Homo sapiens: one gene and its partners. The protein of the gene in region 3 purifies or fractionates together with the protein of the main gene of each other region. This does not show direct contact. Each region holds a gene or a part of one and is shown on either strand. Other genes may lie near its edges. The genes, in order: AMD1, COL14A1, PRELP and TRIM68.

Region 1 (7,024 bases), on a different chromosome or scaffold from region 3:
TGCAGCCTTGACCTCCTGGGCTCTATTAAGATGTGAATAAACTAAAAGTAGGTTAAAAGATGAACAGATGGAATTAAACAAATCTGTTTATAAAGCATAATAAACATAGGGACATAAAAACGATTAAGAGAATGAAAGGCTTAAATGTCCAAAGAGAGCATTAGTATTGATGCTAAAGACAAGGATAACAAGATAAGGATATGAGGGAGAAAAAAATCCTGGAAAAATAGCTTTCCAAAACTAATGCAAGAAGAAATGGAGAACCCAAAACAGTCCTAGAACACCTAAATAACTTGAATCAGTCAATCATCTAGGCCCAGATGATTTCACTGGAGTGTTCTGTATAATTCAAGGGAGAAAATATCCAACTTTTTTCACGCATTCTTCTGGGAAACAACATACTTCCCTCGGTTTTCTCATCCCAAAGTCTGAAATATTTTTTTCTCCTACACGATATTTACCTTTCATATTTAGATCTGCAATCCATCTGGAATTGATTTTGTGTGTGGTGTGAGGGAATACACTTTAAACAAACTTGGCTCATCAGTCCAAGCTTTAATGCTTGGAATCTTTTCTGAATGTACACCTTTTTACTAAACACTGCTTCCCTCTTGTAGACCATTTAAGATATTTTATCTTAAGTGAACAAATTATGTAATACTGAGAAATTTAACAAAGAAAAATCTTTTATGATATAGCTTGGGTTAAACAATACTGTTGGAGAAAAGCAGCAGTCCAGGTATATCCAGATGAATAAAGGACAATTAAGGGAGAGGCGGTTTCTTAGGGGTAACCTGCAGTTTTCTCTGATTTTTCAGATTTTACGGATGTTGAATAAAAATCAGTGACCATTTAAAAAATGGTTTAGTTGTTGGATCAAAGTGCTGTAACAAACAAAAGCTTTTTATAAGACATGGCAGCTTTAGGGAGGGTGAGAGTAGTAAGAAGGAAATCTGTTAGAAAATAGAAAATTTTGCTGAGAAAAGAATGATTTTTCAGGACTGGAAATCCTATTACTGTGCTTTACTCAGATTTTATAAACTAAAACATAATTTTTAGTAAAGGATTGGGGCAGTTGTAAAGATAGTCATACCTCAGCTTAACTTTCCCCAAACTCATGACTTATTTGACTACATCATTATGCAGCATTATTGCAATATCAATAATTTACATTGAAGGAATTTACAACCCGTTGCCAAAAAACCTTTTAGTGTAATGTTTCAGAGTAGAAATGCTTCCTGCTAAAGAATAAAGCTTCTCGTTACATTCCTCCCAGCAGTTTCAAAAAGGTTTCATGGCTGGGCTTGGTGGCTCATGTCTAATCCCAGCACTCTGAGAGACCAAGGAGTTTGAGAGCCCAGTCTGGGCAACATAGTGAAATCCTGACTCTACAAAAAAAATTGAAAAATTATCTGTGCGTGCTGGTCCATCCTGGTGCGTGTCTGCATCCCAGCCACTCGGGAAGCTGAGGTGGGAGGATTTTTTTGAGCCATTGGGGGATCGAGGCTGCAGCGAAATGAGATTGCACCAGTGCGCTCCATCTGGTGGCAGAGTGAAACCCTCTCAACAACAACGAAAATATTTCAACTGTTGTTTACAAACCATGTATCTTTAAGAAGCACATGTTGAAAGTAGCAGAAAACTGAGAGGAGTATCCCGATTTGGGGTAAAAATTTGAGATAGAGAAACAATAATGTGATGATAATAGGTTCATATCTTTGAACAAAAGGGAGGAGGCTTATTTCTCAGGTTATCTGAATTCACTGCCGCAGGAAGGCACCCTCAGAATCTAACTTCTGGTCAGTCTAGCTTTACTCAAGAATGATCTGGTTTTAGGATGCCTTTTACCTAAAGACTGCTTACTACCTGGGGTAGAGGCACCCTGATGAATGTACTGTAATGAGAGCCTCTAAAACAGACCTAAAAATATGAGGTAAGAGCAGAATTGAGAAGCTGCAGTGACTTTGGATAAATTACCTGAACTCTGAAACCAGCTGGTTTTACATTAGGAAGTAATGAGTAATCTAATGACCTGGAAGCTTTTCAAATAAAAATTTGCAGGCATCATCCTCAGAAAGTGTCTGACCTAACTGGGTATGGGAATAGCATCTATGTATTGAGTTTTCAGGTGATTAGAGCATAACCCTGCACTAATGGGATCCTTCTGTATTTAAGTTCTTGGTCTTTTTTTTTTTTGGACAGTCTCAGTCACCCAGGTTCGAGTGCAGTGGTGCCATCTCAGCTCACTGCAACCTCCGCCTCCCAGGTTCAAATGATTCTCCTGCCTCAGCCTCCCTAATAGTGGGTACTACAGGTATGCACCACGATGCCTGGCTAATTTTTGTATTTTTAGTAAAAGACAGGGTTTCGCCATGTTGGCTAGGCTGGTCTTGAACTCCTGACTTCAAGTGATTGAGCCATCGCCCCTGGTCCCTTTGTCCATTTTTTAATCACTTTTTGTTGAGTTGTGTGTAGGTGTGTCTTTTGCTTTGGATATTGACCCCTTATGAGGTGACTTGCAAGTATTTTATTCTGTAGGTTGTCTTTTCACTCGTTTCTTTTGATGTATAGAAATGTTTACATTTTAGGTTTTCAAGTTCCATTTGTCTGTTTTTGATTTTATTGTATGTCATATCCAAGAAATCATTGCCAAATGTAATGCCCTGAAGCATTTACCCTATGTATTCTTCTAGGAGTTTTATTCGCTGTTAATGTTTAGGTTGTTGATCCATTTTGAGTTAATTTTTGTTTATGATGTAAGGTAAAAGTCCAACTTAATTTTGTTTGCATGTGGACATCCATTTTTTCCCAGCACTATTTGTGGAAGCGATGTTTTTCCCTGTTATGTAGGCTTGGGACTCTTGTTCAAGATAGTTGAGCTCAGTCATTTACTTCTTTTTTTGAGACACGCTTGTCTTGCTCTGTCTCCCAGGCTGAAGTGCAGTGGTGTGATTTTTGGTGCACTGTAGCCTCCGCCTCCTGGGTTCAAGTGATTCTCCTGCCTCAGCCTCACGAGTAGCTGGGACTACAAGCCTGCGCCACCACACCTGGCTAATTTTGGTATTTTTACTAGAGGCGGGTTTCGCTATGTTGGTCAGGCTGGTCTTGAACTCCTGACCTCAAGTGATCCGCCTGCCTCGGGCTCCCAAAATGCATTTAATCAGGCGACATAGAGAAGTCTTGTTATAATATAATTATCTTGTCCCTGTAGACATTTCTAAATTCTATTTTTATTAGACCTCAGCCTCTAAGAAAATGTTTTAAATATAAAATGTGGCATGCCACTAAAGTGTTGTTTTTCAGACATACAATTTGTGTGCTGTTATTAATATAGAACATCTATTTTTCTTTGGGATCATTTATCATGATCTCTGATTATATTTAATATTTTAGTATCTAGTCTTTAAGTGAAATTAGGGTATCTCAACCTCAGCATTCTTGACATTTTGATTCAGATAATTCACTGTTGTCAATGACTATCCTGTTAATTATACCGTGTGTAGCAGTGTCCCTGGCCTCTATCCACTGCATGCTGGCAACACCACCACCACCCCAGTTGTGATAAAAAATGTCTCCAAATGTTGCCACATGTCTTCTGGGTGGCAAAATTACTACAAGTTGAGAACCACTGAGTTAGATCAGAGAGGTGGCATTTAAGATGAGAAAAAGGAATTCAAATCAGGAAATACTCAATCTACATATTTCTTTGTGTTTTATAACCACCTAAGAATTGTGTGCTTCGGGCCAGGCATGGTGGTGCATGCCTGTAATCCCAAATCCCAGCACTTTGGGAGGCCGAGGCGGGTGGATTGCTTGAGGTCAGGAGTTCGAGACCAGCCTGGCCAGCATGGTGAAACACCTTCTCTACTAAAAATACAAAAAAAAAATTAGCCTGACATGGTGGCAGATGCCTGTAATCAGTCCCAACTACTCGGGAGGCTGGGGCAGGAGACTTGCTTGAACCTGGGAGGCGGAGTTTGCAGTGAGCTGATAGCATACCACTGCACTCCAGCCTAGGTGACAGAACAAGACTGCATCTCAAAAAAAAAAAAAATTGTGTGCTTGAATAGCTTTATAATAATTTCTAATGACTAGATCAGTATTACGTGAGCTGTAATGTGAACAAATCCCAAAATCATCTTGCTATCTTGCTTCTCTTGATTCTGCTTTATATCCATCAATTTGATTTATTGACTCTTTAAATAGCAAGGATTGCCAAATAGATCAGTTTTATAAATAGTTTATAATAGACTAGTGCTTCAAAGTCTCAGTTTGTAGTGTACTTGGGAGTGAAGCAGAGACAAGACCACTATCACTACTGAGCCTGATAAAACATTCTAGCTTAATACTATCTTTTCTATTTTTGACACACAGTCTCACTCTGTCGCCCAGGCTGGTGTGCAGTGGCACGATCTTGGCTCACTGCAACCTAATTTTAAAAATGGCTCTGTCGACTGTATAAAGCACTTTGTCTTTTCCATCATTAATTTGATCAGAAAGCAGACCACTGAAAACCTTTCCTCCAAAACAAGAGTCAGCAAACTTTCTGTAAAGGACTAGGGAGTAAATTTTAAATTTTGCAAGGCAGACAGTCTGTTGCAATTACTCAGCTCTGCCCTTATAGGGAGAAAATAACCATAGTCAATGTATAAATGAATGGGTGTGGCTAGGTTCCAGTAGAGCTTTATTTACAAAAGCAGGCCATTTTTTCCCACAGAAATGTGATAGAAATAATTTGTGCTGAAATTTTCAGCTGTTGCAGAGTTTTTCACCTCTTTTATGTACATGTATAGCATTGTATTGACTACTTTTTTCTTTCGTCTATTTTGCCCTCTGATTTATTTTTCTTGAGCTTAGTAGCTCTGGTAAATGCCTTTATCATCACTAGGTTGATAGACAGTTTAACTGTTTGTCCTAGGTTGCTTAAAGTAATTGCTTTCTTTTGATACTATGATTGAAAAATTCTGATTACCGGAGCATTACTATTAGTTGAGGAAAGGTTTGAATGGAGAATTTTATTAACTGATGATGAGTGAGTATAAGAGCATTTTGAAGCCAATGGGTTGGCACGTGCCTATAATCCTAGCACTTTGGGAAGCTGAGATGGGAGGATCTCATTAGCCCAGGAGTTTGAGACCAACCTGGGCAACATAGGGAGACCTCATCTCTACAAAACAATTAAAAATATATTAGTAAGGTGTAGTGATACATGCCCTGTGGTCCCAGCTACTTGGGAGGCTGAGGTGGGAGGATCTCTTTGAGCATGGGAGGCCAAGGCTGCAGTGAGCTGTGATTGTGCCATTGTTCTCCAGCCTGGGTGACAGTGAGACTGGCTCAGAAAACAAAAGGTTATTTCTCTGCCATTACAGAAGAAGCATGCTACACTGTCTTCTCTTATTAAAATGCAATTAATAAACCCTGGACAGAATGCATTGTTGAGCAGCTATCCAAGGACTCTGAGAAGTAAATTTTAGCAGGTGAAATGGAGAAGAAAGCCAGAACTTTAAATTCCACTGAACCAGCAGTGAATTTCCTGTTTTTTTTCCCCTGTGGTATCTCCTCGCTGATTTCTCCTGGGCTTGCCAGAAACCCAGAACTGAAAAGTAGGGGCAGGCAAAAATAGTTCCAAGAAAGGCTCTCTAGTTCTCCTCTGCAAAGAAAGAATGAGAGGCCCCTTTGAATCAGAGTGGAAGAAATCTCTTTTTTGCTTTTGTTTTGTTCTATTCTGCCCCAATCCTCTTGTAGGCCTTTAGCAGCTGTGGCAGTTAGGCAGATGTCTAAAACAACGAGAGAAGGGAATCATTTTTTGTTTGTTGTTTGTTTTTGAGACAGAGTCTTGCTCTGTAGCCAGGGCTGGAGTGCAGTGACACGATCTCGGCTCACTGCAAGCTCCGCCTTCCGGGTTCATGCCATTCTCCCGCCGCAGCCACCCAAGTAGCTGGGACTACAGGTGCCCGCCACCATGCCCAGCTAATTTTTTTTTTTTTTATTTTTAGTAGAGACGGGGTTTCACCTTGTTAGCCAGGATGGTCTTGATCTCCTGACCTTGTGATCCTCCTGCCTCCCAGAGTGCTGGGATTACAGGCGTGAGCCACTGCGCCCGGCCAAAGCCCTATTTTTATAGGTAGTGGATGAAGAAGAGTCCTTCCCCTATCCCCTATGTGAGTCAGGCATTGTCAGAGAGATTATGGAAGGTTGAAGAAAGTAAACCTATAAAGTTTTATATGAACACTCCTTAGCCATTTTGCATGGATCTGACCCTAAACAGCACATCAGAGGCTTTGAAAACTAGAATACACAATAGACTGCCTCTCCAGGGCCAGCCTGGCCATTGGGTGGCAAATAAGTGGGGCAGATGCAAATAACATAGCAAAGGAGTTCATAACAAACCTGACACTGGAACCATAACACAACCTAGAAACATTGAGTAAAAACTTGAAGCCTAAACCAAACCAGATTGTCTGCTGAAAGTTTTTAAAAATCAAGACCTAGAATGATGTAACATGTCAAAATATCCAGGATGCCATCCTAAATTAGTCAACATACTCAAAACCAGGAAAATCTTAACATCTCAAAGGAAAAGACAGCAGACACCAACCTCAAGGTGACATGGACCAAGACTTTAAAGTATCTGTGCTACAAGTTGTAAGGGTGAATACTTTGTTTTAAGAGAGGGTCTTGCTCTGTTACCCTGGCTGGAGTGTAGCGGTGTGATCATGGTTCACTGCACCCTCCATCTCCTGGGCTCAAGCAAACTTCCCACATCAGCCTACCGAGTAGCTGGGACTACAGACCTGCACCACCACTCCCAGCTGCCTTTTTTCTTTTTAAGAGACTGGCTATTGCTATGTTGCCCAGGCTGGTCTTGAACTTCTGGTCTCGTGATCCTTCCTTCTTGGCCTCTGAACCACAGTGCCTGGCCACAACAGCCTTTAAAAAAAGAGAAAACAAAAATAAGAAAGGAAAAGACTGTTACACTGTTTAGTTCAGCCATGGAACGTGTTTAAAAGTCTTAATAGAAATG
Region 2 (7,024 bases), on a different chromosome or scaffold from region 3:
GAAAATAATCATTCTCCTTGACTTCTTCTGTGAGTAAATAAAAAATGGCAGGGATCCAGTTACTTTTCTGTATACACTAAGCTTTTGTTGTAGACCAAACTGCATCCTGTTCCTGTGACGTGTGTGTGTGTGTGTGCGCGCGCGTGTGTGTGTGTGTGTGTGTGTGTGTGTGTGTGTTGGAAATGTTGGCATATTTTTTGAGTACTTACTGGGTATCTGCCTTTTTCTCTTTTAGAAACACACTTAAGTCTCCCAGTTACTTGGGGAAGAAAATAATATTCCTCCTTTAGCAATCACTGAGCTTCAAGGATAAAAAGCACCTTGTATGGGATCACAAAGACAGCAAGTGACAGAAATATGATTAAGAAAAGTCTATATGGGGCCAGGCACAGTGGCTCATGCCTGTAATCCCAGCATTTTGGGAGGATCACCTGAGGTCAAGAGTTCAAGGCCAGCATGGCCAACATGGCAAAACCCCATCTCTACTAAAAATATAAAGATTAGCTGGGCGTGGTGGTGGGCACCTGTAATCCTAGATACTTGGGAGGCTGAGGCGGGCATTGAGAATATAAAAGAGAGTCTATAGGAAATTCTGAGCGTTCTTTAAGTCAAAGTTTAGAGCCTAGACTCCCCGTTTCCTCCAGGTAATTTTTTTATTAGTGGTCTTGTTGCACTTTTCTCTCTATGGGCCTTTGTCGGAGCTACCCTGAAAGGTGTCTCTGTGAATTTTAGAGAGCAATGTTTTGCCTCATTTCTCCTAGAAATTATCTGAGTTGCTTACAAAAATTGGTCCAGAGGTAGGTTGTGCTTTGCTAAGTCCATTGCAATGTCTTAGGGTGTGTCTTTATCTAGGAGCAGTCAGAGGGCCCATTATTGGATAAAGATCTATTTCTGGGTGGCCTTTTGTCTCTGGCTTTTGCAAAGAGGAGAACATTTAATTGATGTCTAAAAATGATAATTTGCTGCAGGTTGTTTGCTTCTGTTCTTCCTTCACTTCCCAGCCCTGTCTCCTGCCATGTGCTGGCACTGTGCTAAGCATTCAAAATACAGTAGGGAATAATATGCTTTGGCAAATGGAAATGCCAATAGCTAACTACGGGGTAGTGTTCAATGCTGCAGAATGGAAAATAAAGATTACTACTATAGGAAACAGGAAGAGCACCTGACCCCAGACTTGGAAGATCAAGGAAAACTTCCTGAAGGAAAGGATGTCTAAACTGAGATGTAAAGCTACCCTTTATACTGATTACAGATGTACATTGTAGTTAAAAACAGTCTCCCATTTCTTTGACAGATGAACTATGTCAGTGTTTGAAAAAAATGAAGAGAGGGAAAAAAAGCCAGGTGAAGAACATTCTTGTGTCAAGCAGCTGTCATTCCAATTTGCCATACTTTTGGAATGGCTCTACCTTCTGTCATTTAGAACATACAGCATGAGTTTAATACTGATTGAGCAGCTGTATAACTGAGGCTAATTTTCAGTCAAATTCCTTGCGTTTGAGTGATTCACAGGGATGCTGCTAACCTAATATAGTTTTTCTGTAAATTAGAAAAAGGAAGCCTCTCTGTGCAAACCTATGGCATGGGAGAAGAAAACAGTTCTGTTTTATCTGGATAACACAGCTTTGCACTGGGGCACACAACTTGGGAGCAGAGTGTCTGCCAATTTCAAGTGTCATTGACCCTAGGCGAAGTGTAAATTGTTTAGTTCATTAACTGCGAGCTGTACACACATTAGCCCTGATCATTCAGTCATTAACTATTAAATCAATCAATATTTACTGATTGCCTATGTGTGTTGAACTTTCTTGAATATGGGTTAAACTGCCCATCTAGATGTCTGATAGTGCCCAAGATCTAGAAGGTTAAAACAGTGACTGAGGCCATGAAACTAGCTGGAGAACCTCAATAAGATGAGGGACAGATGCAGTTCATCAGAGGCCTGGTTGGTGAAGGATCAAGTTTGGTGCTACTGCTGGTTGGTGCCCATCCACAAACTGTTACCTGCCTCTGATAAGACAAAAACTACACGATGATGTAAATCAAATATGTCAATAAGCGCACTGTTCACCAAGCACACTGTTAGTTCAACGGAGATTATCATTATTTTTTCATAGCAAAGCTTTTCTGACGAAGGAAGCAAAAGAATACATAGACTTGCATATTGGCATAAGCTCCTTATCTCACTGAGGACCAGTAACAGTTCATAGACCAGCTACTTTGAGTAGCACCAATCTAGGCAACATTGGCCCACATTTGGCCAGATAGGTCATCTTGTATCCTTTCTGCCTTTATACTGTTTTCTTTTCTCTCTTTTCCCCTTATTTTTTCTTTGTTTCCTCTGCCTCCTCATCTTCTTCCTCTTCATCATTTTCCCTTTTCTTCTTCCTTCCCTTATTCCTACTTTACTGTTGCTTTCCCCTTCCATTTGATATTTCTCTCTTAAACAAAAATCACTGTGCATTTTATTCAGCTTTTTGTCTTTTAAAAAGCAAAATAAAGAAAGCCTACGTGTACAAGGAAAGAAATGTAAAATGGAAACATCACTAACTTGGAGAAAATTAAAAGAATTTAATGGTAATTAAAATAAAAATATGCCAATAAATTAGAAAGCCTGGATGAAATGGATTCTTTTTTTTCCAACTTTTATTTTAAGTTTGGGGATACAAGAACAGGTTTATGACATAGGTATATGTGTCATGCTGAAGTTTAGGGTATGAATGATCCCATCACCCAGGTAGTGAGCATAGTACCCAAAAGGTAGTTCTTCAACCCTCACCCCCTTTTTTTTCCTTCCCTCGCTATTAGTCCCCACTGTCTGTTTTCTCATCTTTATGTCCATGTGTACTGTTTAGCTCCTACTTATAAGTGAGAATATGTGGTACTTGGTTTTCTGTTCCTCTGTTAATTCACTTAGGATAATGGCCTCCAGCTGCATCCATGTTGCCGCAAAGGACATGATTTTGTTCTTTGTTATGGCTGTGTAGTATTCCATGGTGTATATGTACCACATTTTCTTTATCCAGTCCACCATTGATGAGCATCTAGGTTGATTTCACATCTTTGTTATTGTGAAGAGTGCTGTGATGAACATAGGAGTGCATGTGTCTTTTTGGTAGAATTATTTATATTCCTTTGCGTATATATCCATTAGTGGGATTACTGAGTTGAACGGTAGTTTTTTAAGTTCTTTGTGAAATCTCCAAACTGCTTTCCACAGTGGCTGAACCAATTTACATTCCTACCAACAGTGTATAAGCATTTCCTTTTCTCTGCAAATCTGTTTTTTTTTTTTTGACTTTTTAATGATAGCCATTCTGATTGGTGTGAGATAGTATCTCAATGTGATTTTGATTTGCATCTTTCTGATGATTAGCAATGTGGAGCATTTTTTCATGTTTGTTGGCTGCTTGTATGTCTTCTTTTGAGAAATATCCGCTCATGCCCTTTGCCTACATTTTTAATAGGGTTATTTGTTTTTTGCTTGTTGAATAATTTAAGTTCATTATAGATTCTGGATATCAGACCTTTGTTGGGTCCATACTTTGCAAATACTTTCTCCTATTCTGTAGATTGTCTATTTACTCTCTTGATAGTTTCTTTTGCTATTCAGAAGCTCTTTAGTTTAATTAGATCCCACTTGTCAATTTTTGTTTCTGTTGCAGTTGATTTGAGGACTTAGTCATAGATTCACTGCCAAAGCCTGTGTCTGGAATGGTATTTGCTAGGTTTTCTTCCTTTTTTCTTCCTTTCTTTTTTTTTTTTTTTTTTTTTTTTTTGAGACAGAGTCTTGCTCTGTCACCAAGGCTGGAGTGCAGTGGCGCTATCTCGGCTCACTGCAACCTCTGCCTCCTGGGTTCAGGCGATTCTCCTGCCCCAGCCTCTCTAGTAGTTGGGATTACAGGCATATGCCCCACCATGCCCAGATAATTTTTTATATTTTTAGTAGAGATGAGGTTTCACTGTGTTAGCCAGGATGGTCTTGATCTCCTGACCTCATGATCCACCCGCTTTGGCCTCCCAAAGTGCTGGGATTACAGGCATGAGCCACTGTGCCCAGCCGATATTTGCTAGGTTTTCTTCTAGGATTTTTTTATAATGTTAGATCTTACATTTAAGCCTTTAATCTATTTTGAGTTAATTTTCATATATGGTGAAAGGTAGGAGTCCCATTTCATTCTTCTGCATACAGCTAGCCAGCTATTCCAACACCATTTATTGAAGAGGTAGTCCTTTCCCCATTGCTTGTTTTTGTTGACATTGTTAAAGATCAGGTGGTTGTAGGTGTGTGACTTTATTTCTGTGTTTTCTAACCTGTTCCGTTTTCTGTGTGTTTGTTTTTGTACCAGTACCATGCTTTTTTGGTTACTGTAGCCTTGTAGTAGAGTTTGAAGTTGGATAATTTGATGCCTTCAATTTTGTTCTTTTTGCTTAGAATTGCTTTGGCTATTGAGGCTCTTTTTTGGTTTTGTTTAGAATTTTTTTTTTTTCTATTTCTGTGAAAAATGATGTAGGTAGTTTGATAGCAATAACATTGAACCTGGATATTGTTTTGGGTAACGTTCTTTTTTTTCTCTTTGAAACAGAGTCTTGTTCTGTCACCCAGGCTGTGTTTTGGGCAGTATTCTTATTTTAATGATATGAAATGAGTTATTTTTAAACAAAGTACAAATTACTAAAACTGATTTTTTATTATACAGGAATTATGAATAAAACATTAGACACAAACATGTTGAAAAAGTTGTTAAAAAGTAACCTCTCCAAGAGTACTGAACTCTCCCCATGGTTTTGCAATTGAATGCTAATGAAAATGTAAAAAAATAAAAATACCGTGCTATTATAACTGTTCCGGCCGGGCGCGGTGGCTCACGCCTGTAATCCCAGCACTTTGGGAGGCCGAGACGGGCGGATCACGAGGTCAGGAGATCGAGACCATCCTGGCTAACACGGTGAAACCCCGTCTCTACTAAAAATACAAAAATTAGCCAGGCATGGTGGCGCGTGCCTGTAGTCCCAGCTACACAGGAGGCTGAGGCAGGAGAATGGCGTGAACCCGGGAGGCGGAGCTTGCAGTGAGTTGAGATCGCGCCACTGCACTCCAGCCTGGGCGACAGAGCGAAACTCCGTCTCAAACAAAAAAAAAATAAAAAAAAAAAAAATAACTGTTCCAAAGTACAGTATAGAGAAAGAAGAAAAAATTCTGTTATTTTTTATAAAACTGGAAAAAATAATACTGATATCAAAACTTGACACAGCATAATAAAAAAGAAAAGCTACAGATTAATTTCACTAATATTGATGTACTTATTGATATGAATAGCATATTAGTAAATAGAACCCAAAAGAATAATTCACAATGATCAAGTTGGGCTCAAATTTTACAGGTAAGTTTAGTATTAGAAAATGGATTAATATAATTGTCATGTTAAAAAGTTAAGAGAAAAAAGTTAGAGGATATTCTTCATAACTACTACAATAATTTAACATTTTATTTCAGATTAATAGCTCAATAAAGTTTACACAGATGGAAATTTACTAAACATGATACATTTATATCAGTATATTTGTGTTTGTCTTCTCTAACAGTCTGTCTAGCCATGTGTCTTCAAAATCAAAGTCATGCCAAAGAAGCATTGCTATTAAAAATAAGAACAAGACAAAGTTTCCAGGATAAATATTCTGGAGATAGTAGCCAAAGTAATAAGAAAAGGGAAAGAAATGAAAAACATAAAATTTGGAAGGTAAGAAGAAAGATATCATCTACAGAAAAAATTAAGGAAATCAATTTTACAAACTTTAAGACTTTGAAAAAATGTTAAACTATTCAAGGTAGGTTACAAAATTAATATAAAAATAAAATTGCTTTACTATAATTAATAAACAACTTGTTTAAAAGTGATTAAGAAAAATCCATTAACAGGAAATAAAACATATATGTATATAATATGTAGAAATAAACTCAAAATGTCAAATTTATATAACTCTTTAAAGTGCTCATGAAGAAATGAAGATGACTGGCTTGAATAAACAAAGAATATATTCTTTTTTGATGTAAAGATGGACTATTGTATAAAAAAGGTCGATCTACCTAAATTGGTCTACTAATTTAACATGATCCCAATTTTGAGGAGTTTTTGGTACCTAGTCAAAAATAATCAGAAAGAAAACTTAAAAGAAAATATTAAAACATATTATAAAGTTTTGATATTTACAATTACTTAATAGTCACACATAAATAGAAAATCGATAGATTCGAAAATAAAATATAGCATTGTTAACCTGTGATCAAAAGGTAAATTATTCTATAAGTGGTATTGGACTAATTGGATAGACATGGAGAATAAAAGTTAAAACTTTTTCATTTACATCAAAATAAGTTTTAGATGATCAAAGATTTCAATTTAAAAATTGAAAATGTAAGAATACTAAAAGAAAATATAGGAAAATGCTATAATTCCAAAGGAGAAAGAGACTTATATGCATGTCATAAACCATAGGAGATAAAAAAGAAAAAAAATAAATATTGGGCAACGTGTTTTATCATATATGATGGAAAAAGAGCCACATATTAAATACAAAAATTTCTCATAAAAAGATGAACACTCCTAGCTGAGTGTGGTGGCTCACGCTTGTAATCCCAGCACTTTGGGAGGCCGAGGAAGTCAGATCACTTGAGGTCAGGAGTTCGAGACCAGCCTGGCCAACATGGCGAAACCCTGTCTCTACTAAAAATACAAAAAACAGTTGGGTATGGTGGTGCATGCCTGTAATCCCAGCTATTTGGGAGGCTGAGGCATGAGAATTGCTTGAACCTGGGAGGTGGAAATTGCAGCGAGCCAAGATTGCACCACTGCACTCCAGCCTGGGTGACAGAGTAAGTGAGATTCCATCACAAAAAACAAACAAACAAACAAAAAACAGATGAACAATCCTATAGAAAAATGACCAAGGATATGCTAGAGAGTTCACCGAACAAAAGACAGCTTAAGTAAATGAAAGATGTGCAGTCATACTTTTAGCCATG
Region 3 (7,980 bases):
CTGCAACCAAGTTTGTGAGACTCCAACTCCAGCACTGCCTACCTTAAAAATGAGGAGGTCTCCATCCTGGCTAACATGGTGAAACCCCGTCTCTACTAAAAAATACAAAAAATTAGCCAGGCGTGGTGGCGGGCGCCTGTAGTCCCAGCTACTTGGGAGGCTAAGCCGGAGAATGGCGTGAATCCAGGAGGCGGAGCTCGAAGTGAGCCAAGATTGTGCCACTGCACTCTAGCCTGGGCGACAGAGTGAGACTCCATCTCAAAAAAAAAAAAAAAAAAAAAAAAATGAGGAGCCCAGGCCGGTGAGGTGGCTCACTCCTGTAATCCCAGCACTTTGGGAGGCCAAGGGAGGAAGATTACCTGAGGTCAGGAGTTCGAGGCCAAGACCAGCCTGGTCAACATGGTGAAGCCCCTTCTCTACTAAAAATACAAAAATTAGCCGGGTTTGGTGGCGGGCACCTGTAATCCCAGCTACTCGGGAGGCTGAGACAGGAGAATCACTTGAACCCTGGAGACAGAGATTGCAGTGAGCCGAGATTGCACCATTGCACACCAGCCTGGCGACAAGAGGGAGACTCTGTCACAAAAAAAAAAAAAAAAAAAAAAAAGAGGAGCCCAAATGTTCACCAAGAGAGACTGTCAACTAAATAAATATTGGGGGGTGGGGGCAGAGAAAGAATCACCAAAAGGACCAATATGATCATCTTCAAAAGATACCTGTACCACTAAGTGAAAATAAAAGTGCATAGCTGCTTATTTGTTACTAGTGTGTACCTTAAATAAATCTGTGAGGACACAAGAAACTGGCGCACGGTCCTCTGGGGGAAAGTGAGTGATGAGGGGATAGGCAAGGGAAAAGACTTTTTCCCTATGCAAGCTCTTATACCTCTTAGATTTTCAATCAAGAGAATGTATTACCTATTCAAAAAATAATAACCTTTTTTTAAAAAAAGAGGGTGACAGAGAATCTCCTTGTTCAACCCTCTTAAATTCAATGAAACAGACCCCTACTGAGCACCCAGGGTGTGCCAAGCCGTTGGTGGGTGCTGTGGGTTATACCATGATGAACAGGATGCTGTCTCTGCCCAGCAGGGGCCCACTCACCCCAGGCAACCCAGGCCCCCCAGGCTGGAGGGTGGGACAGGCTGCCACAGGACTCACACAGCTTCTCCCCCGTTATGCATTTGCCCAGACCCCACCCACCCTGGACTGGGAGCCTCAACTAGTACAGGGTGAGGGTCCGTCCAGGGCCAGCCTCTGTGGGTCCTGATGACCACTGAGCAGTTTGAGCCAAACTCTTCGGGCCCACACTGCTCCTTCCCGGCAAAGTCTCAGGACCACCACGGGGGAGGTGGGAAGCTTGAGTACCTCCCTCCTGTACTTCTATGGAAAGAGTATTACACAATTGTGTCCTTTCTTCTCTTGCTTTAAGCACTCACTGCTTGTAACCAAGGCAGCAATTACTGTGAGGGTCAAAGAAATGGTAAGCCCCCCAGATGGATTTCGGTCTGGATGGGAAGTGTGGGCAGGTCCCAACTCTGCAAATGCAGCTGAAACCCACCAACTTGGAGAGCCCCCTCCCTCTGCTGCCTGGCCCTCCCTGCATTCTGTCTCCTAACCATGCTGCCCCTAGCCCTCTCCTAGGACCAGGCAGCAGTAGCAGCAACAATGTGCATATCTGGACTTCTCACCATATGCCCCAGCATTCACATCATGTGCCTGTGACTGTTCTCTGGCTACACCAGCAAGAGATAAATACCTCCCCTGGGTTGAAGACACACCACTGGTGTCCCTGAGACTCTAGGAGAGTAGAGGAGGCTCTTCCTGGAGGATCCACATAGTCCCAGGGTGCATGAAGCCAGTGAATCACAAAATACTCCCCTGCCATTGCTGCCAATGATCCTTGTGTTATCTTGGGTATACCCTGGGAGGGAGATGGGGCAGATGAGAAAACCAAGGCTCGTGTGCTGAGACCTACTCACCAGGTAGCTAGAGAACAGCAGAGTTGACATCTTAATCCAGGTTTCCTAACCCCAAACCTTATACTCTCTCTTCACAGTATTGTTGGAAGAGCACTGAGAGGTCATTTGGTACAACCTCGTGTTTTATAAATGGCAAACTGAGGTCAGAGAGGGAGAGAGACATCTTCAAGGTCACACAGCATGCAATGGGGCAAAGCCAGGTCCCAAGAACCTGGACCCCTGTCTACCAGGATGGCGACTGTGTTGAACTGGGAAGTGCTTGTCCTGACTAAAGGTGTTCAAATCCTTTTTTTTTTTTTTAACCAATGCTTCAAAATATACCAGTAGGGTTTGTGGGAGTGGGGAACACAGAAGAAACAAGATTGGCCATGAGTCGGTAATTGTTGAAGCTAGGTATTAGATAATGGGGATATTAATACTATACTGTGTAAATATGTATACGTTTTAAAATTTCCACAAAACTTTTAAAAAATTAACGTGCTGTCAAAAAAAATTAGGTACTCAAGCCATATTAGGTCCACAAGCCACTGATTAGCAAACTCTATTCTGGACACTCCTGAATATCCTGCTGGCCATGTCTATACTTCTTTCCAATTCTCTCTGCATAGCGTGGGATGCGGGAGATAGGAGAGGGAGGAAGGGAGATAACTGGCTTAGGCAGGGCTTGGAAGTTGGCCATCCATTCCCGAGAGCATAGACTCTTGGGATTTGGATGGCTGTCATACAAATGGATACAGGTGACACCCCTGCCCCTGCCCATACTCCACACTCCTTCCAGTCTGTCTATCCCCACAGACACTCTACCCATCATCCCTGTACCTCACTGTACTTTGCTCACCTTATTATTTTTTGAGACAGGGTCTTGCTCTGTGACCCAGGCTGGAGGGCACTGGCGTAATCATAGCTCATTACAGCCTTGGTCTCCTGGCCTCAAATAATCCTCTCACCTCAGTCTCCTAAGTAGCTGGGACTTCAGGTACACACCACCACACCCAGCTAATTTTTAAATTATTTGTACAAACAGGGTCCCCCCATATGGCCCAGGCTGGTCTCGAACTCCTGGGCTCCATTAATCTTCTGCCTTCGTCTCCCATAGTGCTGGGATTACAGACATGAGTCTCCGTGCCCAGCCAGTCTTTTTTGCCCTCTATCATCTACCACCCACCATACCAAGGGAAACAAGCAAATCTGGCGTCTGATGTTCCCGGCCTGCAGAAGACGCCATATCCCATCTGGATGAGAAATGAAGCACATGAGCAGCCTGGCAGAGCCACAGTTAATGTGAACCTGGAGAGGAACCGTGCTGTCTTCCAGCAAGACCTCACCAGCAGGGCGTGAAGCCATGAGATCTGGGGTGGAAGGGGGTTGGAGAAAGGTCTGGGTTTTATTTTTCCTTCTCCTTTTCTTAGGCTAATTACCATTCATCGCAATCCCTTTCCTAAACCCTAATATCTTCCCAGTTTATAAAGTGCTCTCACATTTACAATATTTAATCTTCCCAACCCTGTGAGGTCAATATTATCCATATTTTGTAAATGAGGAAACTGAAGGTCCTCATGATCAAGTGATTCACCTAAGACCATAGCTTGTGGGTGGCTGAGCCCAGGGCTGCAGACCCTAATTTTAATGTTCTCTCCTCTACCCCATATTGCGGAGGGCAGGCAGGCAGTCCCCTGTCATGGGGCTCTGCAGCTCTCCATGGAACCAATAATGGAGAAGAAAATTGCGTTGCATTTTCTAAGTAGTCAGCTGGGATGGCAGGAATTTATTTATTTTATTTACTTATTTATTTTTTGAGACAGAGTCACGCTCTTGTTGCCCAGGCTGGAGTGCAGTGGCACGATCTTGGCTCACTGCAAGCTTTGCCTCCCAGGTTCAAGCAATTCTCCTGCCTCAGCCTCCCTAGTAGCTGGGACTACAGATGCCCGCCACCACACCCAGCTAATTTTTTTGTATTTTTAGTACAGACAGGGTTTCACCATGTTGGCCAGGTTGGCCTCAAACTCCTGACCTCAGGTGATCCGCCTGCCTCTGCCTCCCACAGTACTGGGATTACAGGCGTGAGCCACTGTGCCTGGCCATGGCAGGAAATTTTGATGGGCATCTACTTACCTGCAAGTGTGTTGTGCTTTCTTAATTGAGGGGCATTGTTAGAGGATTGTTAGAGGTAGTGGTGTTACTTGACTGGGTCTTCTGGGGTGTTGATGTGCACAGGGGAAATTTGGATTTCCCATCACTTTGTGTGATGACCACACAGCCCCTAAATCTCACCTAAGTGTGATATGGAGAAGCTGAAAGAAGCCACTACATTGTCCACATGAGCTAGGAACAGTGACTTTAGGTCTTACATTAAATCTTAATTCTGCCTTAACTTTGCTGTGCAACTCAGGCCAGACTTCTCCCTCTCTGGTTCTCAGAACAGCCCTGGCAGCCAAACCGAAGTTATCTCCTATGCCAGCCTGAGACTCCACTCCCTTTGCAACCTCCTGGAGAAGATAACTTAGGGAAAGACTGTCACTGCTCAGAGGAAGCATCCCAAACCCCTCACTGGTTTAGGAATTTAACACTACCGAGCAACGGCCCCAGAAGGCAAGGCGATTGTTAGGAGGAATTAAACAGGCTAGTGCTGGACCCAGCCATCCAGTCCTGGCTTACACAGAGGTTGCTTTTCATGCCTTTTCACTCTGTTAATTTGGCTTGTTTTCCAAACATGGGTCAAACAACCCCTCTCCAGAAGCGGCAGCAGCAGAAGGAAATGTTATTAAAAATGAGTCTGTTAGTGGGAATGGTGTGTGGATGAAGTCTTTGGGAGTTTTGGCTGCCAAATAAAGACTTTATTGTCATTCCTCCTTTCCCAAGCTCCCTCCCTCTCTCCTCCCCTCCCCTCCCTCCCTCCTCCCTCCTCTCCTCCCCTCCCTCCCTATGATCTGCCCCTCCCTCCCCCCAAGCTAACCTCCCCACCCCAATAGGATCTGGTGGAAGAAAAGTCAGGCAAACACAAGCACGCACACACCACTGGGAGATCAGATCTTCTAGCTGGCTCTCTGCTGCCACAGCTCCGCCGAAGGGAGGGGGTGGAAGAGGAGGACTAAACTCAGAGCTGAGAGGAGAGGCAGGTGTGTGCAGGTAAGCCCAGTTGGGAGATGGGCAGGAGACTGGGAAGAATCTTTCATCCAGTAAGTTTCCTCCAGCTCTGTCCATTTATTGATCTAGTCTCTATCCTCTCACTCCTTCCTTCCTCCCACCTCTTTCTCCTCTCAAATGAGTTCAAATTTAGTCTTCCTAACTTCTTTCCTATAGCCTCTTCCTTTTCTTTTCATCACTCTGTACCCCTATATTTGCTTACTGCAAAAGTTAAGCTTTCCTGCTGCAGATGTTTGTTGTAGCACAGAGAGCCACGCTGCACAAAGTGTTTCTACAGATCAGGTGTTTCCATAGAAACTGGACTCCAGAACCCATTTCTTTGCACCTTTTGTGTATTGTCACACATTGTGGAAGTCACACACATCACACGGAGGCTGCACGTTCACTACCATCACCCCACACGACCATACAAAATGAAGACATCCTGTCCATTCACCTCTGCCCTCTGCATCTGACATGCAGAGCTAGACCACATCATCACCAGACACCAGCAGACACACACACACATGCATGCACACATGTTCCCTGCATCTTGTCTCTCGCCCTCTCACACACACCTCCCTAGCTGTAAGAGCAAAGATAAAGTACGTTTTCCCACTGAGATGGCAGAGCCAGAAGAAAATCTTGCATCCCAAGTCCAGGCCGAATAGGGAGGAGATAAGCAAGAGCGGGAGCTGGAAGGGTTTCTTCATTATTTAGGGCTTCACTGGGTAGGAGGGAGAGAAAAACGGCTTTTTCCAACCTGCACAGTGTCTTCTCAGCAGCTTTCAATTTCTGTCTCACTGGTCCAAACCACTTGGCTTTTGGAAAGAAAGAAGAAAGCGACCCAGTTCCCAATCCTTGAAGGTCCTAATTCCCAGCTCTGGGGACAGTTCATTTTTTTATTTTTTTTTCCTGCAGGCAGCCAGAAAAATATTTTTCTTTAAAGCCGTTCTGAAATTATTCCAACCATTTAGGTTGGCAAAAGGTCCTGTGGCAGAGGAGAAAAAAAAAAAAAGGCAGCAGTTCCTTAAGCAGTTGGGGAGGGGAAAACTGAAGGGCGGCCCCTCTCCTGCTCCCCTGCTCATTCCTCTCTATTAATAGAGAGGGTCTGTCCCAAGGCAGGCGGGGTGTAGGGAGATCAGGGGTCCCACACACAGCTGATCTTCACAGTCACCTAAGGGCTGGAGAGGGAGGAGTGTGGAGGGCTTACTAAAAATACAGATGTCGGCTCTCACTGCAGATCTACTGAATCGAGACCCAGGAATCTTGTTTTAATACTTCAGGAGATTCTGATGGTCCACCAGGGCTCGAGAATCAGGGGCCTGAGAGAGAGCTTTGCTGTAATTTTTAAGCCCAAGACTCCGGCAGTGTTAGCTGGGCAGAAGGACTGTGTCCTGGAAAAGGAGCACCAGAGTGTCCCAAATAGGCCACCTCTTTTTTGGGGAGTGGGAGTAAACAGGGAAGAGCTGTCTCCCTCTCTCCTCCTTGCAAGCACAAGCAGCCATATATACCACAGAGGAACATTCCAGTAAGAAAGTTCCCCCAAGATGGCTCCACAGAGCTTCTGTTTCCCCTCACCTGTTAATCTGCCTGCCCCAGGACCCCAGGAGCATGTGCTGGGCCCTTCCCCTGACCCTTATAGGTCCCTGCTCCTCCTTCCCAGCAGCCACCTGTCTGGGCTCTCACAGAGGGTGAGCTGAACACTTTCTTCATGCCCCCTCCACCTCCCTAGTGGGCAATCCCATTTATTGGGCATGTGAGTGAAGCATTTCAAGGCTGGAAGGGGCAAAAAGCTGGGAGAAGTCAAGAATCGCAGTGGAACTCCATGGCCCACTGAGGAAGGCAGACTTGCACCTTCTGTGGCCAGTGTCCCCTCACCTGTTGCAGAAAGCATCGGTGAGAAGTTGGTGAATTAGAAAGACAGAACAAGCTTTCCCTAGGTGGCTGGGGACTTCCAGAGTCTCCTCAGTTAGTTGTTTCTGAGACCCAAGTGTGATCTCACAAGCCACAAAGGGGAGGAAGTTGCTCTGTGTGGAAGAGCTGGTACCCCACTCACAAGGATCCCTGCCTTCGAGCAGTGCATGGGGGCTGCCCTCTAGCCAGGCTGGAGGGAAGGAGACCCCATTACTTTGAAATAATATCAACAAGACCTTAACATTCAGAAAACACTCACTTTGCATGTATTAACTCATTTAACCCTCAAAACAGAAAAGAAGGTGTTAGTATCCCCATTTTATAGAGCAGAAAAGCAATTGCTTTGCCTAAGCCTACCTAGCTAAGCATCTGAATGAAGAACTGCAGGATTGGGTCTCAGATCTATAATCACTCAAGGCATCAGACACACTCTTCTAGGCTTTCTTCAAGGCTTGGAGATGCTGGGGGAATGGGGCAGAGGATATGGTAGGTGGCGGGCTGTCAGAGAAGAGTCGTCTCACCCTGGTTTCTTCCCCACCGCTCAGAATGGAAAACTTTCTCTTCTAAACTAGTGGCCTGAGGCCAGAAAATCTTCATTCTGTTTACACTTTGCCTTGTGGTAGACACTGGGGAGACAGATGGTCTCTCCATAATAGTGTTATTTTTATTTTTAGCACTTTTTGATCTGTAGTGCATTTTAAAGCTGCTAACTGCACTTGCTTCTGACAATTGGGTAAGGAATATAGGTATAGGGAAGATTTTTTTATTCCCATTTTACAGATAAGAAAACTGAGGCCCAGAACAGGGTTCGCATCACTAGGTAGTGGTGGAGGGGTGAGAATCTTCTCTCCTAACTAGTATGCACCACAGGCTCTCCTCCCACTGCCCCAGGCAAGCTCATCCTTGTATCGTTTCACCTTCCTAGAAAGGGGCATCTTGAAGTCATCATGCCCCCATAA
Region 4 (7,024 bases), on a different chromosome or scaffold from region 3:
GGCTACATCCAGGAATGGGGCTGAAGGGTGACCTGTGTGAGCGCCATGGGGAAAAGCTGAAGATGTTCTGCAAAGAGGATGTCTTGATAATGTGTGAGGCCTGCAGCCAGTCCCCAGAGCATGAGGCCCACAGTGTTGTGCCAATGGAGGATGTTGCCTGGGAGTACAAGGTGAGAGATGGAAGCTGGCCACTCCAGTCTAACCCCGGCCCCAAGTTGGCTGTTTCTAGATCAAGGGCTTGACCACCAGCACCACAGACTGAGAGCTAACTCCTTTGGTTCCTGACACCCAGAGATCCCTGGAATCTGATACAGAGAGCTATACCTTTCCTTGTATTCATGACCTTCCTTGATTTCCTGCTCTCCCACTTCCTCTACACCTACATCCTAACAGGGCTCAATTCCTAACCCAAGGCTGATTTCAGTAATGAGAATGTGAAGGAAAACAGTTTGGGTTTTAACTGAGATTCTGGATGCCTTGGATGAGTTTAGGCATGAGGCTCTTATATAGATGGTCAAGGCTACACCTGACCTGCAAACTCCTCCTAGCAGTGCTGCAAGTAGTCATTTGGCATTGAATGGATCACTTCCCTCCTTCATTTTATAGACAAAAGTGAGGCTTAGAAAGTTGAAAACATGGCAATTTATTTTAGAGGTGGAAAGAACTATGGGTGAGTCACAAGATTGAGAGAGGTCATCTGATATAGTCTTCTCAGGTCCTTTCTGACTTCAGGTCCAGTTAGTGAAAGGAAGATCAGAGGCTGTGACTCAAGTCTTCTTGCACTTTCTCCTCTCCCAAGTTTGTTTGTTTGACAAGTCATCTCTGACAAACCTGGGACTCCTTTTTTGTAGCTAACCTCATCAACTTCCAGCTTCTGGGCTTCTCTTTACTCTTTCATCAGATGCCCATAATGACATCTTTATCGGAACCATTATCTCAGTGATTCTGTGATCCAGTGATCCAGCATTGGTCTCAACTCTCTTTTTTGGAGTTGAAATAGGAAGGTGAGAGTGTAAGACAAATCCCCTGAATTAGCTTTTTTCCTATATGGGAGGGATTTCTAAAATATGAAAAGTATTTACTAACTCATTCTGTTTTTGAGACTATTAGAAAAGGGAGCTAGTATAACATAGGGGTAAAGGGCTGGATGAAATCCCAGCCCAACCATTTATTACCTGAATGACTTTGGGTAGGTCACCCTCTAAGCCTCAGTTTTCTTGTCTATAAAATAAGGTTAATACCAGCCTCAGAGGATTGTAAGTATCACATGCATATTTAGAGCTGAAAATATACCTGACACTTGATATATTTTAACAAAATAGTTGCTATTTTGTTAAAATAGCAGAATTAAATGGTGTTTCTGCACAGTTTATGCTTTTCAGTAGAAATCCCTTGCATTACTATTCTAGGAAAGTGCTTCTTACCCTTAATAAGCATATGAACCACCTGGGAGATCCATCTAAAATTGAGATTCTCATTTGGTAGGTCTAAAGTAAGGCCAAGATTCTGCATTTCTAACAAGCTCCTAGGTGATGTGGATGCTGCTGATCCACTTGAACCACATTTGGAGTAACAAGGTTCTGGCAGACAGTAAGATAAAAATAAATAAGATAAGGATAAAAATTGGCATGGAAAGGAAAGTCCAAGGTACTTTTGTGGAGAGGTTGTAAATGGACCTTTTCTTCCAGTTTACAGACATTTAGAGACTGTGGGAGTTGAAATGATTCTCAGCCCAGAGAGCTACCTCGGATGTCATCTGGGCAGAGTCTGCTTCCTCTGTGGCATTCCCTTTCCCCACAGCCTTCACTGTGGCCGGTTGCCTGAAGGACTCTGGTTCTCCCATAGCCTCCCAGTGCTAGGAAGCCTAGGCTGCCGGAGGTGGCCTCATGAGGGTTTTGTCTCTTGCAGTGGGAACTTCATGAGGCCCTCGAACATCTGAAGAAAGAGCAAGAAGAGGCCTGGAAGCTTGAAGTTGGTGAAAGGAAACGAACTGCCACCTGGAAGGCAGGTTGCCTCGTGGGGAAAGGAGTTTGTGTCAGTCGTCCTGTGTGGTCCTGGAGCTGGCCTAGGGTAGCATTCTCATCACTGTGAGGCAGAATGTGAGGCTTGAAATCACAGAGCCTAGGGTTCTAATCCCTGCTTTCTCTGTCCCAGGCCTTAGGTAGGCCACGTCACCTCTTAATTCCAGTTTCTCCATGGGGATGTAGGGATAACCTCTGGTCTTGTATCCTCCTATATGAGAAAGGAAAAGCACATGCTCACGTGTGTCAGCTCACAGTGGCATGGCTTATATCATGCTTGTAAAGCAGAGTTTCTCTTTCATTTTCCCAAGTTAGAGAATATTTGCTAAGAGTCTGGTTATTAAAATATTGTAAAATCACCTCTGAAATAAATTTGAGGCCAGTAAGTATCAAACTACTAGAACTTTTGATCAACAGAAAGTAACACTGAACCAATCTAAAACAGCATGTTGAACAGATATAATATCAACATGAAAATGAACCACCTAACAGTGTAGTTAAGTTACACTGCCTTAGAGACTTAAATGTAACACATCTTGTCATTATTCTGAAAATGGAAAATAGTCTAGAGCATGTAGTATTAAGATAATATCCTGGACCCTACTGGAGTCAATAAGAGTGACAATAGAGACCTAGAAGCATGTGGTGGAGCTGGGAGAACAGGAAGCTAGGAAAAATAGTATCCTTTATCTTTGCCCCTGCATAGCCTGTCACGTGGTTGGTACCATTGCAGAGTATGTGTGTATGCATATGTCAGTATGCTCGATACTGGGTGACTGAAAGTATCAGTGCTGATTTCCATCTTGGCTCCACAGATACAGGTGGAAACCCGAAAACAGAGTATTGTATGGGAGTTTGAAAAATACCAGCGATTACTAGAGAAAAAGCAGCCACCACATCGGCAGCTGGGGGCAGAGGTAGCAGCAGCTCTGGCCAGCCTACAGCGGGAGGCAGCGGAGACCATGCAGAAACTGGAGTTGAACCATAGCGAGCTCATCCAGCAGAGCCAGGTCCTGTGGAGGATGATTGCAGAGTTGAAAGAGAGGTCGCAGAGGCCTGTCCGCTGGATGTTGCAGGTGAGTAGTAGGTTTTCCTGGTAACCCTGAGTGACAGCTGAAGATAGACTGAGACTCCAGGAGAGAGCATCAGTTACCCTTCAGTAGGGACTGCCAGCCCTCTGCCAGCTGGTCATGGATCCTGTGTTTCCCCAGCTAATACCTGCTGTTTCCCTATCCCTGGCTGGTGGATGACCTGGTCTGTTGTAGCATCATAGGTGGGGCAGTGCTCAGGCAGCTCTGGCGTCATTCCAGGCCCTCTCCTCTAGCCCGAGAGTCTTGAGATGGAGCCTGAAATTGGCCAGTTCAGCCAAAGCTCAGCCTGCTCTTCCATCCTTCCATAGGCTTCTCCTTACCTCTGCATGGCATCTCTCCATTCTTGGTATCTGTCTCCCTTCCCCTAGAGAAACTCCCTGCCAGTTCGATGTCTGTTCCCTCTGAGGAATAGCACTTACTCAGATGCTGCATTTTTTTTTCTCCTTCCAGGATATTCAGGAAGTGTTAAACAGGTATGTTCTCACCCTTGGAGCCTCTAAGCAGCCCTGTAGGGGATAGTGAGGCCTAACTAGAGCCAGAAGTAGGGACGGAGCACAGACTCGGTGCACACAGAAAAGCAGGTGCTGGTCCACAGTCTCGTCCCACTTACATGGTAATGGCTAAGGAATCTTTGTTGATCTTTCCTTTTTCTTCTTTGTACTTGATCAAATGTATATCAAGTGAAGCTGTAAAATATGTGGTTTCAAGTAGATTGCTCAAAGAGGATAAAAGACTGCCCATGACTCCTTCATGTCCGACAGAAAATGTGTGCACTTCTTCCTCTCCCAGAATCAAATATACATCCAACCCTTCCCATAGCATGGGCATGCAGGTGTTCTCACCTCTGCACACAAACAGCTTGAGGCTCAGCCAAATAACCGTAACCATCATGTCTCTGCTTTGCTGGGGTTCACTATGTCCCTGGCCAAGCCCCTCTTCCCTGTACTAAGATAAGGCCCATGTGACAAAGCCGGGACTCCTGGCCCTGAGGTTCACCCTCCTCTACCAGGAGCAAATCTTGGAGCTTGCAGCAGCCAGAACCAATCTCCCTGGAGTTGAAGACAGATTGCCGTGTGCTGGGGCTAAGAGAGATCCTGAAGACTTATGCAGGTAATGGATCCTGGGGGAGACTGTAGTGGACAGTGGGAGGGACCCCTCCCAGAGATAGAAAATGGTTCAGTGCCCTCTGGGTGCTCCATCCAGCCTCACCCCTTCATCATTGAGAAATCTGTGGCTGAATTTATCAGAGGGCTCTCACCCATGTCCCCTGGCCCTATATCACTGTTACCAACCAGGACCTTTTCTTCTAGCTGATGTGCGCTTGGATCCAGATACTGCTTACTCCCGTCTCATCGTGTCTGAGGACAGAAAACGTGTGCACTATGGAGACACCAACCAGAAACTGCCAGACAATCCTGAGAGATTTTACCGCTATAATATCGTCCTGGGAAGCCAGTGCATCTCCTCAGGCCGGCACTACTGGGAGGTGGAGGTGGGAGACAGGTCTGAGTGGGGCCTGGGAGTATGTAAGCAAAATGTAGACCGGAAGGAGGTGGTCTACTTATCCCCCCACTATGGATTCTGGGTGATAAGGCTGAGGAAGGGAAATGAGTACCGAGCAGGCACCGATGAGTACCCAATCCTGTCCTTGCCGGTCCCTCCTCGCCGGGTGGGAATCTTCGTGGATTATGAGGCCCATGACATTTCTTTCTACAATGTGACTGACTGTGGCTCCCACATCTTCACTTTCCCCCGCTATCCCTTCCCTGGGCGCCTCCTGCCCTATTTTAGTCCTTGCTACAGCATTGGAACCAACAACACTGCTCCTCTGGCCATCTGCTCCCTGGATGGGGAGGACTAAGAAAGCTACCACCCTAACCAGAGAGGCTTGGAATTGGGCCTGGCCCCCATGGGGCTTGGAGGACCGAGCCACTGACAGGTATCCCCTGAAACTGAGCTGAGCCCAGTATCCAAGGATTCCTCTGTCTGATCCTTTGGTCTTTGCTACCAGGCTGAAGTCTGTCATGAAACCACTTATTTTAAAAAGCAGAGGCCCAGTCAAATGAGCATTGCATCCCATGAGGGAAGCACGACAGGGCTGATGGTGAGGATCAGAGCAGTTCTAAGGTGACTCGTTGGGGTAAGGATCAGGACTTTGTCCATGTAGTAGCCAACCACCCTCTTCCCTGATTCCCGTCCGGTGTCACAGTTCAGTCAGTGAGGATGATGAAGTAGATACAGTCTTCAGGACACCATTAGATGGGCTTTCCCAATAGGCCAAAAAAATGCTGCGCATACCCAGAGCTGGTTGTTGTGCTGAGGCCAGTCAGAGGATGCTTCCCCTGAGGTTTGCTATAACTAAGCAACCTTTATGTGACTCTCACCTTCTGACCTCCTGGCAAGAGAAATTCAGTGCAGCAGGGGGACACAGACCTGCCCAAGCCACCCCACTGCCGTTCCCTCTCTGAGCACAAGCTGGGCAAATCACTGTCCCTTGGACTCCAGGAGACCAGTGTCCTAGTCTTGCCTTTTTTCTCTAAGTGGCAGGATCAGAAAACCTGCGAGCTTTAGTTTGTATTTTCACTTTATGAATGAGGAAACTGAAATGGCCTTAAGGGAGCAAGTTATTTCTTTTTTTTTGACACGGAGTCTCACTCTGTTGCCCAGGCTGGAGTGCAGTGGCACGATCTCGGCTCACTGCAGGCTCTGCCTCCTGGGTTCACGCCATTCTCCTGCCTCAGCTTCCCGAGTAGCTGGGACTACAGGCGCCCACCACGACGCCTGGCTCATTTTTTTGTATTTTTAGTAGAGACGGAGTTTCACCATGTTAGCTAGGATGGTCTCGATCTCCTGACCTCATGATCCGCCCTCCTCAGCCTCCCACAGTGCTGGGATTAGAGGCATGAGCCACTGCGCCCGGCCCCTGGAGCAAGTTATTTCTTACAAAGCTGCTGAAGGTAAGATTATCAAAATTATAAAGCATTTTTCACACTCAAGTGAAACAAGGTTGACAAACTCACTTCGCAGGTCACATGCCTATACATCACTTATTATATTTGGGTCTGAAACTTCTCACATGTTTGGGAGGTTTTATGTGTCCTCATTGGGAAAATGGGTGTAATTCAGCATAAAACCTCATATGATTGTCCTGCCTCATGGAGCTGTTGTATAGATCCCAGATCCATCCCATGATTTGTTCCTGTCTGAGGCATAGAGGCAGGCAAGCCGTGGATTTTGCACATGGTGACTTTCCCACTGTGCCATGATACAGTCTGCATCTTATAGCAGTGCCTTTGTCTCAGGGCCTCTGCTGGCAGTCTAGACCTTTTGGGCAGAAAGGAGCTTCAAATGGCTGTGATAAGGAATATTAAAAATTGTGTTTCTACTTTAATTGTATTGGCTGTTCATGTATGTAGGAGTTAAAATAGGCCAAACTGGAGAAATAAACGCATTCTGTCCACCATGCTTCCAGACTGCTTCTTGAGAATCAGTAGTAGAAGGGGAGAAGTTTCCATCAGCTGCCTGGAGGGGAATGAGCTAGTGAGGCACAGACCCTGGTGCTGGCCAAGGGTTGAGCCTGCCTCAATTAGAGGAGCATCTTTGTCAGGGGATTCCCTGGGGGTAACTGAGAAGTAGGTCCCTAGGAAGGACTTCAGTTCTGTCTGTGGACAATTGGGACAAAAGGGTTAAGGGAAAATCAATGTTGTTCTTTGGCTATTAAGACAAATCTTGGAAGGTTCCTAGAAACGGAGGATTGTTAGCTGATAAATTCATTCGAACTTAGAATGAAGGAAGGAATGAAATGGCCTCATTTGTAATGTACTCTTTTTGGTTGGTTTGATTGTTTTTTACATTTATAAGCCTGTTTGGGTACTCTGATTACTTGTTAGAAGACTCGTAAGGTTAAACAAT

What was found.
Region 1: the proteins of PRELP (region 3) and AMD1 purify together in Homo sapiens (affinity purification with mass spectrometry; 3 studies listed by BioGRID and IntAct, with this or other methods). This does not show direct contact.
Region 2: the proteins of PRELP (region 3) and COL14A1 purify together in Homo sapiens (affinity purification with mass spectrometry; 3 studies listed by BioGRID and IntAct, with this or other methods). This does not show direct contact.
Region 4: the proteins of PRELP (region 3) and TRIM68 purify together in Homo sapiens (affinity purification with mass spectrometry; 4 studies listed by BioGRID and IntAct, with this or other methods). This does not show direct contact.

The regions. Positions count from the first base shown.
Region 1 is NC_000006.12:110,877,785-110,884,808, forward strand, and holds part of AMD1 (S-adenosylmethionine decarboxylase proenzyme), read left to right. Parts: intron 1-7,024.
Region 2 is NC_000008.11:120,128,086-120,135,109, forward strand, and holds part of COL14A1 (collagen alpha-1(XIV) chain isoform 1 precursor), read left to right. Parts: intron 1-7,024. UniProt on the Homo sapiens protein: Plays an adhesive role by integrating collagen bundles. It is probably associated with the surface of interstitial collagen fibrils via COL1.
Region 3 is NC_000001.11:203,470,832-203,478,811, forward strand, and holds the start of PRELP (prolargin precursor), read left to right. Parts: upstream 1-4,974; 5' UTR 4,975-5,107; intron 5,108-7,980. UniProt on the Homo sapiens protein: May anchor basement membranes to the underlying connective tissue.
Region 4 is NC_000011.10:4,598,225-4,605,248, reverse strand, and holds the end of TRIM68 (E3 ubiquitin-protein ligase TRIM68), read left to right. Parts: coding exon 1-170; intron 171-1,908; coding exon 1,909-2,004; intron 2,005-2,836; coding exon 2,837-3,097; intron 3,098-3,562; coding exon 3,563-3,585; intron 3,586-4,121; coding exon 4,122-4,222; intron 4,223-4,422; coding exon 4,423-4,973; 3' UTR 4,974-6,577; downstream 6,578-7,024. UniProt on the Homo sapiens protein: Functions as a ubiquitin E3 ligase. Acts as a coactivator of androgen receptor (AR) depending on its ubiquitin ligase activity.